Linked DNA regions of Homo sapiens: region 1 is linked to region 2. A link means that fine-mapping ties the variant in region 2 to the expression of a gene that starts in the linked region. Tissue or cell type: whole blood. Region 2 holds a variant in brackets; the other region holds the start of a gene. All regions are shown on one strand. Distances are from middle to middle.

What was found. PIP is the estimated chance that this variant, and not a neighbour inherited with it, causes the effect.
Region 1: it holds the start of ORMDL3, and the variant in region 2 is fine-mapped to the expression of ORMDL3 in whole blood (INTERVAL, PIP 0.97).

Annotation. Positions count from the first base shown.
Region 1 is chr17:39,923,554-39,930,348 of GRCh38, reverse strand. ORMDL3 (ORMDL sphingolipid biosynthesis regulator 3) reads left to right here and starts at 2,748. Exons shown (of 4, transcript NM_139280.4): 1 at 2,748-2,865; 2 at 6,124-6,319. The coding sequence starts at 6,146. It overlaps LRRC3C (leucine rich repeat containing 3C), which reads right to left and starts at 2,617. Exons shown (of 4, transcript NM_001195545.2): 1 at 2,535-2,617. LOC124903999 (a long non-coding RNA gene) reads right to left here and starts at 3,629. Exons shown (of 2, transcript XR_007065750.1): 1 at 3,587-3,629; 2 at 3,347-3,421. RefSeq lists enhancers at 2,272-2,883, 2,884-3,494, 5,446-6,231, 6,232-6,795.
Region 2 is chr17:39,898,166-39,906,111 of GRCh38, reverse strand. It overlaps GSDMB (gasdermin B), which reads left to right. Exons shown (of 11, transcript NM_001165958.2): 8 at 1; 9 at 127-265; 10 at 616-686; 11 at 1,148-1,517. The coding sequence ends at 1,300. Among named protein-coding and RNA genes, the nearest start is that of GSDMB, 16 kb to the left of the region's middle. The variant A/G (reference allele first, on the strand shown) is at 2,466.

The sequences.
Region 1 (6,795 bases), 25 kb before region 2:
TATCATTTAATTTATTTTAATCTGTAAGTCTCTCCCCCTCTTTTTTTTCCTTTTTTTTTTTTTTTTTTTTTGAGACAGGATCTCACTCTGCTGCCCAGACTGGAATGCACTGGCACGATCACAGCTCACTGCAGCCTTGACCTCCCGGGCTCAATTGATCCTCCCACCTCAGCCTCCTGAGTAGCTGGGACTATAGACACACCACCATGCCCAACTAATTTTTGTATTTTTTGTAGACCACGGGGTTTTACCATGTTGTCCAGGTTGGTCTCGAACTCCTGGACACAAGCCTTGGCCTCTCAAAGTGCTGGGATTACAGGCGTGAGTCACCATACCTGGCCCCAGTTTTATTTGTTAAGGGAATTGGGTGTTTGTCCTAATTTTCTTCATTCTAGACTTTGCTGACTATATCCCTGGGGAATGTATGTTATGCTATTTTGTGTCCTCATCTTTTCATATAACTTAGCAAACATTCCCCATACTGCCACAGGGTTTTCACAATCTGTCCTAAATGGCTTCATACTATTCCATCCAGTGGATATACTGTAATTTTTTTCTTGGGCATTTGGTTGCTTTCAGTTTTTCACTACTATAAATATTGCTGGAATGAACATCCTGACACATTGCAGCTTTTCCTGTACATGGGATGACTTCCTTAGAATATGCTACCAAAAGTGTAATTATGGCTCTGAGGCAAGAAGAATTTTTCAGCTTCTTGGCACACAGTGACAAGTGTTTGTCCAAGGGTTTGTATGTCCCCCAGCACGAAATAAGAGAGCTGTCACTCACTCTGAATAGTGCTTAGGGCTATTCACAGCTGAAGAACGTTTGGGGAAGATATGATAATTATGAGGGCCAAGAGAGAAGGAGAAAGATGACAACAGGGACTCCCGCTAAATAAAGCAGAAAGTGATCTGCAATTTACCACAAACCTAGAGTGAGTCAGAACTCTGTTCATTCCTATTGTGAAAAAAAAATCCTCGATAACAGGAGTTATTAATAGTGCATGACATGTTCAGTAATCTTTCTGTTAGACTCTGCATTAGTCAGAACCTTATTTGAGACGTGGACTCAGTCTGGGTCACTGAACTTCATAGAGATGTCAGGAAACTGACCAAGATCCAGAGGGATCGATCAACTTGATGGAGGATGAAGAATCCCAGAGAAAAATCAAAGGAGTCAAGCAGGCACACTTCGGAAAAAACAGAGACACCTTTCTTGCCTTAATGCTGGGGAGGTTTCTGTGAAAAGAACAACACTGGGTTTGCTTATGTCTGCAGAAAGATGACTATAAGGAAAGGCACCTCCACAAACCAGGAGAAACTTCCACAGGACATAGGCAGAGCTATTTCAGACTCAGATGATTATTTCGATCTTGGAATGAGCCCTTTTGGGGCCATTGGCCCTGGAAATATTGAAGAAGCTGCCTGTTCTGCTCTGGGTGGTTCAAATACCCACCTGCCTGGTGACCACTAAGTGCCTCTGGGGGTCCCACTCCAGCTGTGTGACAACTGTTTCCTGGCAGCCCCCTGGGGAAGGAAAGGTAGGTGTAGTCCGAGTAAAGTGCTCCGCAGTTTCCCTGGGCTAGCCTTTTCCTTCCTGTTCCCTCACTTTCAGTTCAGGGTGCCATGAACTGCCATTCAGAGTCAGGTTGGCATGCCATGACATCATCTGACCTTGCTATTCCAGCCCTGCCCTGCATAGAGTGGACTTAGAAAGAAGCTGGGTAAGGAGTTGAAACTACCCAGACAAGACCTCTTGGTGACATGGAGAATGGGAGTAACCGAGGAGACCTCAAGAGCCATTTAGTTCAACCTCCTACAGTAATATTAAGTAGATTCCTACAATGCAACAGGTGCTTTACATACATTCTTTTGGGTTCCCACAACCTTGGAGGTGGGGTTTCACAGGTGTGGAATTGGAGATTAAGACAAGTAATTTGCCCAGGGTCACACTGCCAATAAAGGAGGGCCTACCCCATGTCTACCAGGCAGTAAAGTCTGTGCCCTTGCCTTTAGACGATGCAGATGTGAAAACTGCAGACCAGAGCCTCTCATTCAAAGCCACACAAGCTGACCTGAGACAGAAACTCAGGCTCCTTACTACTGATGGAGGAATCTATGATACGTAGCCTCTTCTCACGTCAGGTGCGGGGCGGCCAAGGATGTGGCCCGGTCCGGGGCAGCCTGGGCCAAGCGTGACTGAGAAGGAGAAGGCAGGCTCCGTTCCGGGCCCTCCAGACCCTCATCCCAGCCAATGTTGTGAAAAGCGCTCTCCCAGGAGGGCCCAGCAGGGCAAAGGGCCGGGCTAGTCTGTTTCTGGAGGAGCCAATCTGGGGCCAGGGCGGAGGCAGCCAGGTGCAGTGGAAAAATCCTGCAGTTGGGGTCAGAATATTTGGGTTTCGATCCAGTCTAGGACCCAGCAAAGACCTACAGAAAGTTACTTACAAGTCCGAGTCTCCTCATCTGCAAAACTGGGGCACGGATAAAATACACTTGAAGGGCACAGAAGCAAAAGTTGGAATTGTTACGCACCAAAATTCTATCATCCGATCTGACCATCACGTCACGGTACAACTTCCAACCGTGCGTCCCCGAAGAGGCCGGGAACGGAGCCCAGGAAAAACTACAACTCCCAGGAGGCGTCGGGAGGGCCGGCCCGGAGCCAGCGGAAGAAACTACAACTCCCAGAAGGCGTCGGGCGTGCCGGCGCGGGGCGGTGACGTACGGGGACCGGCGCGGAGCGCTGATTCGGCCGGAGCTGCCAGCGGGGAGGCTGCAGCCGCGGGTTGTTACAGCTGCTGGAGCAGCAGCGGCCCCCGCTCCCGGGAACCGTTCCCGGGCCGTTGATCTTCGGCCCCACACGGTGAGCCCGGAAGGAACCAAGAGGCCCCAGGGCTACGGGAGGGGCGGGAGAGAAGGTGGGGGCTGCTGGGGAGGCGCCCCGGGCTGGAGAGACGGGGGCAGAGGGAGTGGGGGGTGGAGGGAGTGCATCAGCCGAGGGGGTGCATCGGCTGGGGAGGTGGCCAAGGAATAAAGTGCGAGCGGGAGGCCGGGGGTGGAACGTCGGGAGGAGCGCCTCGGCTAGGGGTGGGAGGCGGGGAGCGGCTCGGCTTCGGGGATAAACGTTTGGCTGCCTCCAGGGCTGGGTGAACGCGTGGAGATGGCTGTGGGGTCCCGGACCGGACCGGGTTCCGAGTGCGAAGACCCAGGCTGGGGAACAGAGCGGGACCCCTCCCCCCGGCCCCGCACCCGAGGTCTCACTCAGAAAACCCCAACAACAGTGAGGACTCCGCCTCTTCGCTCCTCCTCTCCTGTGCTTAGTGCGGGTTCGCCTGGGCACTCGCTTTCCGCTCCTACCGCCCTCCCCCAGTCGGGGTGGCTGGGCCAAAGTTGAGAGGTTATCAGCTGTGGTCCTGCAGCTTGGGGGGTGGGCGGAATGGACATGGCATTGTGACGTGCTGCCCCGGACTCCCCGTTGGGGTCCCCATCCAGGCCTGGATGTTTTGTGCTCCTCTTCCAGAAGACAGGAGGTTTGCTGTTGTGAGGGCTGCTCTTTCCTGGGGGAGGGAATGGGAAGGGCTCACCTGGTGGCTGCCCTGGTGGTGCTCAGCCTTGGCTTGAGTGTCTGGCATACTGGCTGGGCCCGGATATTTGTATGTGGAGCCAAGAGGGTGGGGCGGGAAGGAGGGGGAAAGAGCTACCAGCAAAAAAGTGGTTAACACAACAGAGTTGCTGCAGGCTCTGGTTTGAGGCAGGTTATGAAACCACATCAGGGCCCAGCACTAAGCAGCCACCTGCCAGCTATGGCAGCAGAAGTTTTCGGCTCAACTCCTGTAGACCTAGTCGACCTCTGCCAGCCTCTTCTCTCTGTTTCTCCCCATCTAGGGTAGGGGCCAGTTGGTTGTTTTACTAATGGAAGTGATATGTATCCATAGTCACACGAAAGTCTCAAGAGTGTTTCCTCATTGCCAGTCTTTTTGTTAGTTTATTGATCTCTTCTTTTTCAGGGGTCTCTGGTGGTTTCCTGCTCTCAGGGCACCTAGTGTTTAGGCTTCAGGAAGAAGCTTCTGAGGGTGTTGGCTAGGACCTAGGTCTAGGCTTTTCCTAGGCTCATCAAGTTTTGTTGGCTGCCCTGTGAAAGCCAGAAAGGCGTATGGGGTCCTGTGATCTGGGATTCCCCAAGGCTTTTGGCACTCCTGGACAAATACTAGGAAGGGTTAGTGGACTTTCTATACCAGCACCCCTGTAGGTGCGGGTTACAGAGAGGTGATGGGGTGGCAGTTTCAGGTCAGACTTGGGAAGCTCTTTCCCTCTCCTTAGTCAGAGTTAAGTCCTTCAGAGCCCTCACTTGTCAGCCACATGCCGCCCTCCCCTCTCAGGTGGAGGCTTTTGCGTAGCAGCTGTCCCAGGGGCTGCTAGAGTAACTGAAGCCCCAAGGCCCTGGGAAGATAAACAATCTGAGCCAGCTCTGGCTTTCTAGATACTTGAATTTCTGTTAGGCTCAATTATCCAGCCTAGTGGGCTGCGCTGATGGGTCCCAGGAGCATCTCTTCAATCAGAATGCGCCCCAGGCTGGCGCACGGGTGTTTGCTTGTTGGGATGGCGTGTTGTGGGTCACATTTTCTCTGAGGTCTCTAAGCTTGGAGCTGTCTGAGAAGAGGAAACTTGCTCCTGTTATCCTGGAAGTAAATAACTGGCCCCTGAGGACTCAGTCTCCTGTGCAGGTTTGGCTAGGATCCTAGTCAGAGATAGATAGCATCTGGGTCTGACGGGGTTGCTGCAGGGGCGTGAGGGAGGTGGCCTTCTGGGTACTTCTAGAATATCTCCATCTGGGACTCTTTTCTGCATTCCCAGGAAAGATGGGGCTGTTACCATGGTGATGACCTTACGGTCTTTAGCAAGCAGGACCCTATCTCAGATAGGGAGGTGAGCCAGTACACAGGTGCCATCTGTCTCCACTTTCTCCTGGTCACAGGGCCCTCAGGGATCTGGGGACAGCCAAACTCTGGATAAGGGGCAGATCATTCCACCCCTTCCTTCTCTACTTCCCTCTGCTCACTGTGGGTTGCGGCCACCTCCTGGTTCCTCCTGCTGCAGGACTCCTACCGTTGGTGCTGGGCAGGGGAAGGCATGGTGCTAATATACACCTGGAAACAGGTGCTGAGAGGGGAGACTGAGGTGAGGATGGGCAGGACAGAGAAGAACGGGGGCAGGAGGGAGGCCACAGGTTCGAGTCTGTGCCCTTAGGAGACATATGTTGAGGTGGATTCCAGCTCTCTATGGGAGTTACAGGTGTTGGCCACGTTCTCTATCCTCGCCTCTCTTGTGGGGAAAAGGGCCCTGGTGGTTTGGCAGTGGAGTGGGTAGCATCACAAGGGTTGGCCTGAGTGGCTGCCAAATGGAGAAAACATCCGGATGGGTTGTTTTGTGTCACCCAGGAGGGGTGCCTTCTAGGTCTGGGCAAAGGTTGTCCCTAGTCTGTTGTTTTCTCCTTTCTTCCTCCCTTCCTCCCTCCCCACTTCCCTCTTTCTACCTGATCAGTCCTCCTAAGTTGGGGTTTGGGGAGATCCAGAATTGAAAAAATCAGAGGAGGTGAGTGGATGCAGTGACCTCAAAATAGTTCATCCACTGCTGCCTGTACCCACAGGCCTCACTTCCTTTCCCTCCTGATGGGAAGAGCTTAAGAGCAGATGTCCCACATTAGGCCTTCAGTGAGACACAGTCCAGCAGGGGTTGTGCTGAGTGAGAATTCTCTCCCTGGGGCTTTGTCGGCAGAGGGTCCTCATGGGAGTGCCATAGGGGGTGAGGCTGGGGGATGGGCCTTGACTTCTCTGCCCTGGGGCTGCGTGCCTCTTGATGACCTGTCCTCCGATGCCCTGCCAGGGCCCTGTCCCAATGGGATGATGCATGGGGCAGCCTGTTGTTTATCCCAGCCCAGCAGCAGGAAATGAGTAGAGCTAAGTCCACATGGACTTTCTCCACTTTCCATGCTTCAGAATCAAAAGAGTGGAACTGCCTGGAGTTCTCAGGGAAACAAGGGCCTGCCTCCCAGCGGGATCCGAGGGTGAGAGGGGGCAGGGAAAGCAGTGTGACCTGTCTGACCTGTGCTGCTTGTTTGCAGAACAGCAGAGAGGGGCAGCAGGATGAATGTGGGCACAGCGCACAGCGAGGTGAACCCCAACACGCGGGTGATGAACAGCCGTGGCATCTGGCTCTCCTACGTGCTGGCCATCGGTCTCCTCCACATCGTGCTGCTGAGCATCCCGTTTGTGAGTGTCCCTGTCGTCTGGACCCTCACCAACCTCATTCACAACATGGTGAGAGCCTGTCTGCTGCCTGCCCCTGCCCCTGCCCCTGCCCTGTGGGCTGCCCTTTGGCAGGGCTGAGGGATAGGAGGAGCCTGTCGGGCCTGGCCCAGGTGTCAGGGTGATGTACTGACGACATCTGCCTCCAGAGCCCAGGCCTAGCCCTTACCTCTCTGCCTTGCTCCCCCTTCTGGGTTCCTGCCCTGTGTACCATGACAGGAATCAAATCTGCAGATTTTTCCACATCTCTAGGGTGGGGTGGCTGTTGGCCTGGAAGATGTGCTCCTGAGAGCTGAACAAAGGGCTCCAGAGAGTTCCCAGGACCCGAGAGTCCTGGTGCCTAGGCTGATACAGAAATGCCCCTTTCTCAAGTTAGCTTCTCGAACCGTCTTCCACTTTTGCCCTTCTCTGCTCCCTCACCACTTGCTACCTTGCACTCTTTGTCGGGTAAGCAGGGCTTAGTCCCATCGCTTGCCTCCTCCCAACAG
Region 2 (7,946 bases):
AGTAAGGGACCCTAAGAAAGCCTTGGGGCAGAGAGAGATAGGAGCCAGAGGGGATGGCAGTTGGCACAGTGAGGATAATCTGCTATGGTGAGACTGCTGCTCATCTCCCACACTTCCTGGCCCTAGGTATCTGAGGTCCTGATTTCCGGGGAGCTACACATGGAGGACCCAGACAAGCCTCTCCTAAGCAGCCTTTTTAATGCTGCTGGGGTCTTGGTAGAAGCGCGTGCAAAAGCCATTCTGGACTTCCTGGATGCCCTGCTAGGTGAGGAAGGGTCTCGCTGTAGGCTGGGGTGGAGGAAGTGTGAGCAGAGAGGCCTGTGGGGAGTCACATCTTGGGAGGAGGGGCTGCATGTTGCTCTTCACAGTTTATGGGGGGCACTCCTTCATGTCTTCCTCAGGCCAGGCATTGAGGGGCTGGTTCCTCGTCTGTGACTCCTGCAGGCCAAGAGGGAAGCAGGAGTCACAGCAGAGGCCTGTTTGGAGTAAGTCTCATCTAGCACTCCCAGGGGCTCTCTGGAACCTTTTGATGATACATGTTCTGGGTGTGATCAGCCACTGAGGCCCTGTCCCACCATATATCTCTCCTTTTTACCACTCTTTCTTTGCCCCCAGAGCTGTCTGAAGAGCAGCAGTTTGTGGCTGAGGCCCTGGAGAAGGGGACCCTTCCTCTGTTGAAGGACCAGGTGAGACAGCCTGGGCTGAGGGCCATGGTCATAGTGGAAGGGAATGCCCATATTCTCAAGGGACCCAGAAGTCCCAGGGTACAGCCCCTTCTTATTCCATAGTTTTCTGCCGGCTCACATCCATGCAGCTGGTTTGTGACAATTCCCTGGACAGAGAGTTGCCAGAACAATTTGTGGTGGGTTCTTTAGGCTCTGTTTTTTATCTGTGGGCAAGAGAGGGCTGCAAATTGGTTAGTCCCAGGACAGCAGCTGGTATGATCTTGAGTTCCCATGCAGACTGACTAGCAGAGCCTGCCACTATGTTGAGAGAGTATGAAGCTCTCCGGGCTCTGCAGGAAAGAGTGCCATGATGGATTATTACGTCTGCCTATCAGCTCAGCAGCAAGGAGTGTGGCCAAATATTTGCCATTTCTGGTATATCGTTGTTCCTAGCTGTTACAATCTGGGGGGTTTCCTTCCAGGTGAAATCTGTCATGGAGCAGAACTGGGATGAGCTGGCCAGCAGTCCTCCTGACATGGACTATGACCCTGAGGCACGAATTCTCTGTGCGCTGTATGTTGTTGTCTCTATCCTGCTGGAGCTGGCTGAGGGGCCTACCTCTGTCTCTTCCTAACTACAAAAGCCCTTTCTCCCCACAAGCCTCTGGGTTTTCCCTTTACCAGTCTGTCCTCACTGCCATCGCCACTACCATCCTGTCACCAGTGGGACCTCTTTAAAACAAGCAGCCAACCATTCTTTGATGTATCCCATTCGCTCCATGTTAACATCCAAAACCAGCCTGGATTTCATACATGGACTTCTGATTAAAAGTGGCAGGTTGTGCATGTTAATTTTGTCTTTTGAAGCCTCACTAAATGACAGTAAAGCAATAGAAAAACTTTGTATAAACCTACAAGGATAGAAAGAATGCAGCAGCAGATAAGAAACTTTAACACATCTTTGGAAGCTAGAAAGCAATGAAAGGAGTGCAGGCTGGCAGGTGTGGGACTGAGGGGTAGACAGGAGATTGCTGTTTTTATCATCAGGCTTTTATTTATTTATTTATTTATTTACTTATTTATTTATTTATTTATTTATTTTTGAGACAGCTTGTTGCCTAGGCTGGAGTGCAATGGCGTGATCTCGGCTCACTGCAACCTCTGCCTCCTGGGTTCAAGCGATTCTCCTGCCTCAGTCTCCAGAATACCTGGGATTACAGGTGCCCACAATGATGCCCAGCTAATTTTTGTATTTTTAGTAGAGATGGGGTTTAACCCTTGTTGGCCAGGCTGGTCTCGAACTCCTGAGCTCCAGTGATCCACCCCCCTCGGCCTCCCAAAGTACTGGGATTACAGCGGTGAGCCACCGCGCCTGGCCAGCTTTTTAGTTCTATTTGATATTTTTAAAGAAACTGTAATTAAAAGTTAAAGAAATGTATGCTTGTTATAAAACATTCAAACATTTCCCAAATATAAATTAGCAGGTGAAGTTACTCTGTGACCTACCCTTTCTTTCTAGAGACCCAGAGAGGTAAGTGAAATATCAGAACATTAAAGTAATTTTGCCTCAGGTAAGGGGGATTGATATTTGCAAATCCAGGCAAACTAAGTTTGGGTTTGGCTAGCCTCCTGGACTGATGGCTCCAGAAGCCAAGGCCAAGGGCCTATCCAAGTTTGGGAGTCTAGTACAAGGAAACCTGCCCTACCATATTAGACTAATCTCAAAGGCTACACTGTAAGTGTTAGGGTGAATCAGCAGTAAACTTACTGTTCTTACTCCACCCCCAGGGGACTGCAGGG[A/G]AGACTCTCTTGGTACTGAGTGAGGAAGAGGTTAGCGAAAGGAAAGGAAAAAAAATTCTGAGAAAACCACAGCCCAGTCTTTTCTCAGAACTTAGCCTGCATTTGTATCCTCTTGAGAATTCCAGAGAATCTGAAATTGTGAACTTGGTTTTTGGGGGTCTTGGACTGAATGTACCCCCAGATGCCTGTCAGAACCAAACACAAATTATCTCTGGAGGAAGTAATCTTCCACAAATATATATATTTGAGACAGAGTCATGCTCTGTCACCCAGGTTGGAGTGCAGTGGAGCAATCACAGCTCACTACAGCCTCCACTTCCCAGGCTCAAGCGATCCTCCCACCTCAGCCTCTTGAGTAGCTGGGACTACAGGTGTGCACCATCATGCCTGGCTAATTTAAAAAATTTTTTTTGTAGAGATGGCGTCTCCCTGTATTGCCCAGGCTGGTCTTGAATTTCTGGGTTCAAGCGATCCTTCTGCCTTGGCCTCCCAAAGTGTTGGGATTACAGGTGTGAGTCACTGTGCTTGGCTGGCTAAGGCACATATGTTTTCCTTTTGAGAGATGTGGTATTGCTCTGTTGCCCAGGCTAGAGTGCAGTGGTGCAATCATGGCTCACTGCAGCCTCTACCTCCTGGGCTCAAGTGATCCTCCCATTTCAGCCCCCTGAGTAGCTGGGACCACAGGTACGCACCACCATGCCCCATCTAATTTTTTATTTTTATTTTTTGTAGAGATGGGGTCTCACTATGTTGCCAGGGCCTCACTATGTTGCCAGGGCTGGTGTTGAACTCTTAGGCTCAAGTGGTCCTCCCTCCTCAGCCTCCTGAAGTGTTGGAATTATAGGAGTGAGCCACTATGCCGGCCTAAGGCACATACTGTCAAGTAACTCAAAAGTCAAGGGAGAAATCCTAATGGAAGTTATAAGATTTTTTTTTCTACTTAGTGATAATAAAAATATACATATCAAACTTGTGGAATTAAGCTAAAGTCTTTTGTTTTTAGAGAAAATATATGTTTCACCTTGTTTGTTTTAGAAAAGAAAAAAAGCTAAAAAAATCAAAAAGCTAAGTATTCATGTCAAAAAGCTAACAAAGAAAACTCCAAAACAAACCCAACAACAAGCCGCTCCCTTCCCCTCCAAAAAAGCCCAGCAAAATAAATCCAGGAAAAAGAGGAGAAAAAGCACACAAATTGACAAAATAAGAAACAAAAACATTAAGAGGATCAATAAAGACAGACATTGGACCTTTAAAATGACTCACAGATCTCTGACAAGAGTGATATTTAATTTAATTTATTTATTTGTTTTTGTTTTTGAGATGGAGTCTCACTCTGTCTCCCAGGCTGGAGTGCAGTGGTGCAATCTTGGCGCACTGCAACCTTCACTGCCTGGATTCAAACAATTCTCTTGCCTCAGCCTCTTGAGTAGCTGGGACTACAGGTGCACACCACCACACCTGTTTAATTTTTGTATTTTTTAGTAAAGACAAGAGTTTTGCCATGTTGGCCAGGCTGATCTTGAACTCCTGACTTCAGGTAATCCACCCACCTCAGCCTCCCAAAGTGCTGGGATTATAGGTGTGAGCCACCGTGCCCAGCTTGACAAGAGTGATAAAAAGAGAGAGGGAGCAAATATCATCAGTTTTAAGAGTGAAAAGGGAACAGTTCTAAAGATGTTACAGGCATTTAAAAGACAGGAGGATATTAGAAACGACTTTATGCCAATAAATTTGAAATTTTAGGTGAAATGGGTGTTATCCTAAAAAAATACAATTTCCCAAAGTTGTCCCAGAAAAAAATAGAAAACATGGGCCTGGCGCGGTGGCTCACGCCTGTAATCCCAGCACTTCGGGAGGCCAAGGTGGGCAGATCACGAGGTCAGGAGATCGAGTCCATCCTGGCTGACACGGTGAAACCCCATCTCTACTAAAAATACAAAAAATTAGCCGGGCATGGTGGCAGGCACCTGTAGTCCCAGCTACTCAGGAGGCTGAGGCAGGAGAATGGTGTGAACCAGGGAAGCAGAGCTTGCAGTGAGCAGAGATTGTGCCACTGCACTCCACCCTGAGCGACAGAGCGAGACTCTGTCTCAAAAAACAACAACAACAACAACAACAAGAAAAACCAGAAAACATGAATAATCCTCTAAGAACAAAGGATACTCTATCAAGAACAAAATATTGGCCAAGCACGGTGGCTCACACCTGTAATCCTAGCACTTTGGGAGACTGAGGTGGGTGGATCACTTGAGGTCAAGAATTCGAGACCAATCTGGGCAACATGGTGAAGCCCGTGTCTACTAAAAATACAAAAATTAGCTGGGCATGATGGCGCATGCCTGTAATCCCAGCTACTTAGGAGGCTGAGGCATGAAAATTGCTTGAATCTGGGAGACAGAGGTTGCAGTGAGCCGAGATCACGACACTGCACTCCAGCCTGGGTGACAGAGTGAGACTCTTTCTCAAAAACAAACAAACAAAATATTCCCACAAAGAAAATTCCAAGCCCAGATGGTTTCTTCAGTTATACAATTAAGCATTTAAGAATAAGTAACTCTAATTTCACACAAACTTTTTCAGAGACACTTTCCAATTCATCCACAACACTAGCAAAACTTAACAAGAACAATAAGAGAAAGGAAAATGCAGGCCAGTCTCATTCGTGAGCTTAGATGAAAAAACAGAAAAACAAATCAGCAAACCAAATCACCGTAGAAAAATAATAATATAAACTGGATTTATCTGGGATTTCAAGGCTGGCTTAACATTGAAAAATTAATGTAATTTACCACACTAGCAATTTAAGAAGAAAAATGATGGGATCATTTCAATAAAGACAAAAATGCATCTGATAAAATTCAATGTCCATTCATGATTAAAATTCCAAGAAAACTAGGAACAGGGCCAGGTGTGGTGGCTTACACCTGTAATCCCAGCACTTTGGGAGGCCGAGGTGGGCGCATCACTTGACGTCAGGGGTTCAAGACCAGCCTGGCCAACATGGTGAAACCCCATCTCTACAAAAATACAAAAATTAGCCAGGCTTGGTAGTGGGTTCCTGTAACCCCAGCTACTTGGGAGGCTGAGGTGGGAGAGTCGTTTGAACCCGGGAGGTGTAGGTTGCAATGAACCAAGATCACGCCATTGCACTCCAGCCTGGGGGACAGAGCCAGACTCCGTCTCAAAAAAAAAAAAAGAAAAAAAAGAAAAGAAAACTAGGAACAGGAGGAAACTTCTTTAATCTGATAAGAGTATATACAAAATATTTATAGTAAATATCATATTTATGGTAAAATGTTGTAAGCTTTCTCTCTGAAATCAGTAATAAGACAAGGATATTCACTATCACTGTCTATTTGACATTGTACAGAAGATCTAGCAAATGCAGTTAAACAAGAAAAAGCAACAAAATATGTAAGAATTATAAAATATTGCATTACTTACAGATGATCTAATGTGTACATTGAAAATCCAGAAGATTTACAGATAAATTATGAAATTAATAATTTAACAATTTTGTAAAATCAATATATGGACCAGTTGTAATCCTATATATACCACTAACAAGTACAAAATGAAATTTGAAAAATACAATGATAATGGCACCAAAAATATGAAATATTTAGGAAAATGTTGAACTGAAGGTCCGAAAGAGCTGAAATACATTGTTATAAAATCTTACTGAAGCCAGGTGTGGTGGCTCACACCTGCAATCCCAACACTTTGGGAGGCTGAGGTGGGCGGATCACCTGAGGCTGGGAGTTCAAGTCCAGCCTGACCAACATGGAGAAACCCCATCTCTACTAAAAATACAGAATTAGCTGGGCGTGGTGGCGCACACCTGTAATCTCAGCTACTTGGGAGGCTGAGGCAGGAGAATCGCTTGAACCCGAGAGGCAGAGGTTGTGGTGAGCCGAGATCGCGCCATTGCACTCCAGCCTGGTGACAGATCGAGACTCTGTTCAAAAAAAAAAAAAATCTTACTGAGAGACCTTAGAAAAGACTTAAACAAAAGAAGAGATACTACATTGAAGGATTAGGAGACACAATATTGTAAAAATGTTAATTCTTCTCAGATTGATTTATGGATTCAGTACAATCCCAATAAAAATCCTAACAGTTGAGTGAATGAGTGAGTGTGTGTGTTTGTGTGTGTGTGTTTATGTAGGTGTGTAATTTAAAAAGCTGATTCTAAAATGCAAAGGGCAAAAACAGCTATGAGGCTCTTGAAGAAGAACAAGGTGGAAAGACTTGTTCTACCAGATCCAAGACTGATTTTGAAAGCTATATTATTTCAGTGTGGCACTGAACAGGGATAGACAGAAAAACAATGAAATAGAGATCTCAGAAATGGATCCCCATGTAAAAATGGACATTTGATATATGAGAAAAGTGTCACTGAAGATTAGTTAAGAAAGGCTAGACTTTTCAATAAACGGTGCCAAGACAACTGGATAAGCATGTAGATAAAAAATGAAATTTGGCTGGGCATGGTGGCTCACACCTGTAATTCCAGCATTTTGGGAGGCTGAAGTAGGAGGTTAATTTGAGCCAGAAGTTTGAGGTTACAGTGAGCTATGACTGCTACTGCACTCCATTCTGGGTGACAGAGTGAAACCCTGTCTCTAAAAAGAAAAAAAAAAAAAAATGAGCCAGGTGTGGTGGCTCATGCATGTAATTCCAGCACTTTGGGAGGCCGAGGTGGGCAGATCACCTGAGGTCAGGAGTTTGAGACCAGCCTGGCCAACGTGGTGAAACCCCATCTCTACTAAAAATACAAAAATTAGCTGGGTGTGGTGGCAGGCGCATGTAATCCCGGCTATTCAGGAGGCTGAGGCAGGAGAATCGCTTGAACCTGGGAGGTGAAGGTTGCAGTGAGCTGAGATCACGCCATTGCACTCCAGCCTGGGCAACAGGTTGAGACTCCGTCTCAGAAAAAAAAAAAAAAAAGGATCCCTATCACACAGTATACATAAAAATTAAATTCCAGATGGGTTATAGATCTAAATGTGAAAGGTAAAATGATAATTATATTAACATTAAAAACTTCTGTTCACAAGATATATGATAAAGAGGGTAAAAAGCCCACGGAGTGGGAGAAGATATTTAAAATACATGCAACTTACAAAGGGCTAGTATCCAGAATGTATAAGGAACTAATACAAATCAATAACAAAAAGATGACCCATTAGAAAAACAGACAAAATATTTGAACGGCACTTTCCATAAAGGAAAAACCAAATGGCTAACAAATGTATAAACTGATGCTTGACTCCATTACTAATCAGGGAAATACAAATTAAAACCACTATGAAATAACATTATTCCCTCACCGTAAAAGCTAAAAGTCTGACAATATCAAGTGTTGGTGAGCACCTGGACAAATGGGAACTTTCATACACTACTGCTAGGAAGGTAAACTAGTACAGCCACTTTGAATAACAGTTTGGCATTACAAATCAAAGATTTGCCTACCCTGTG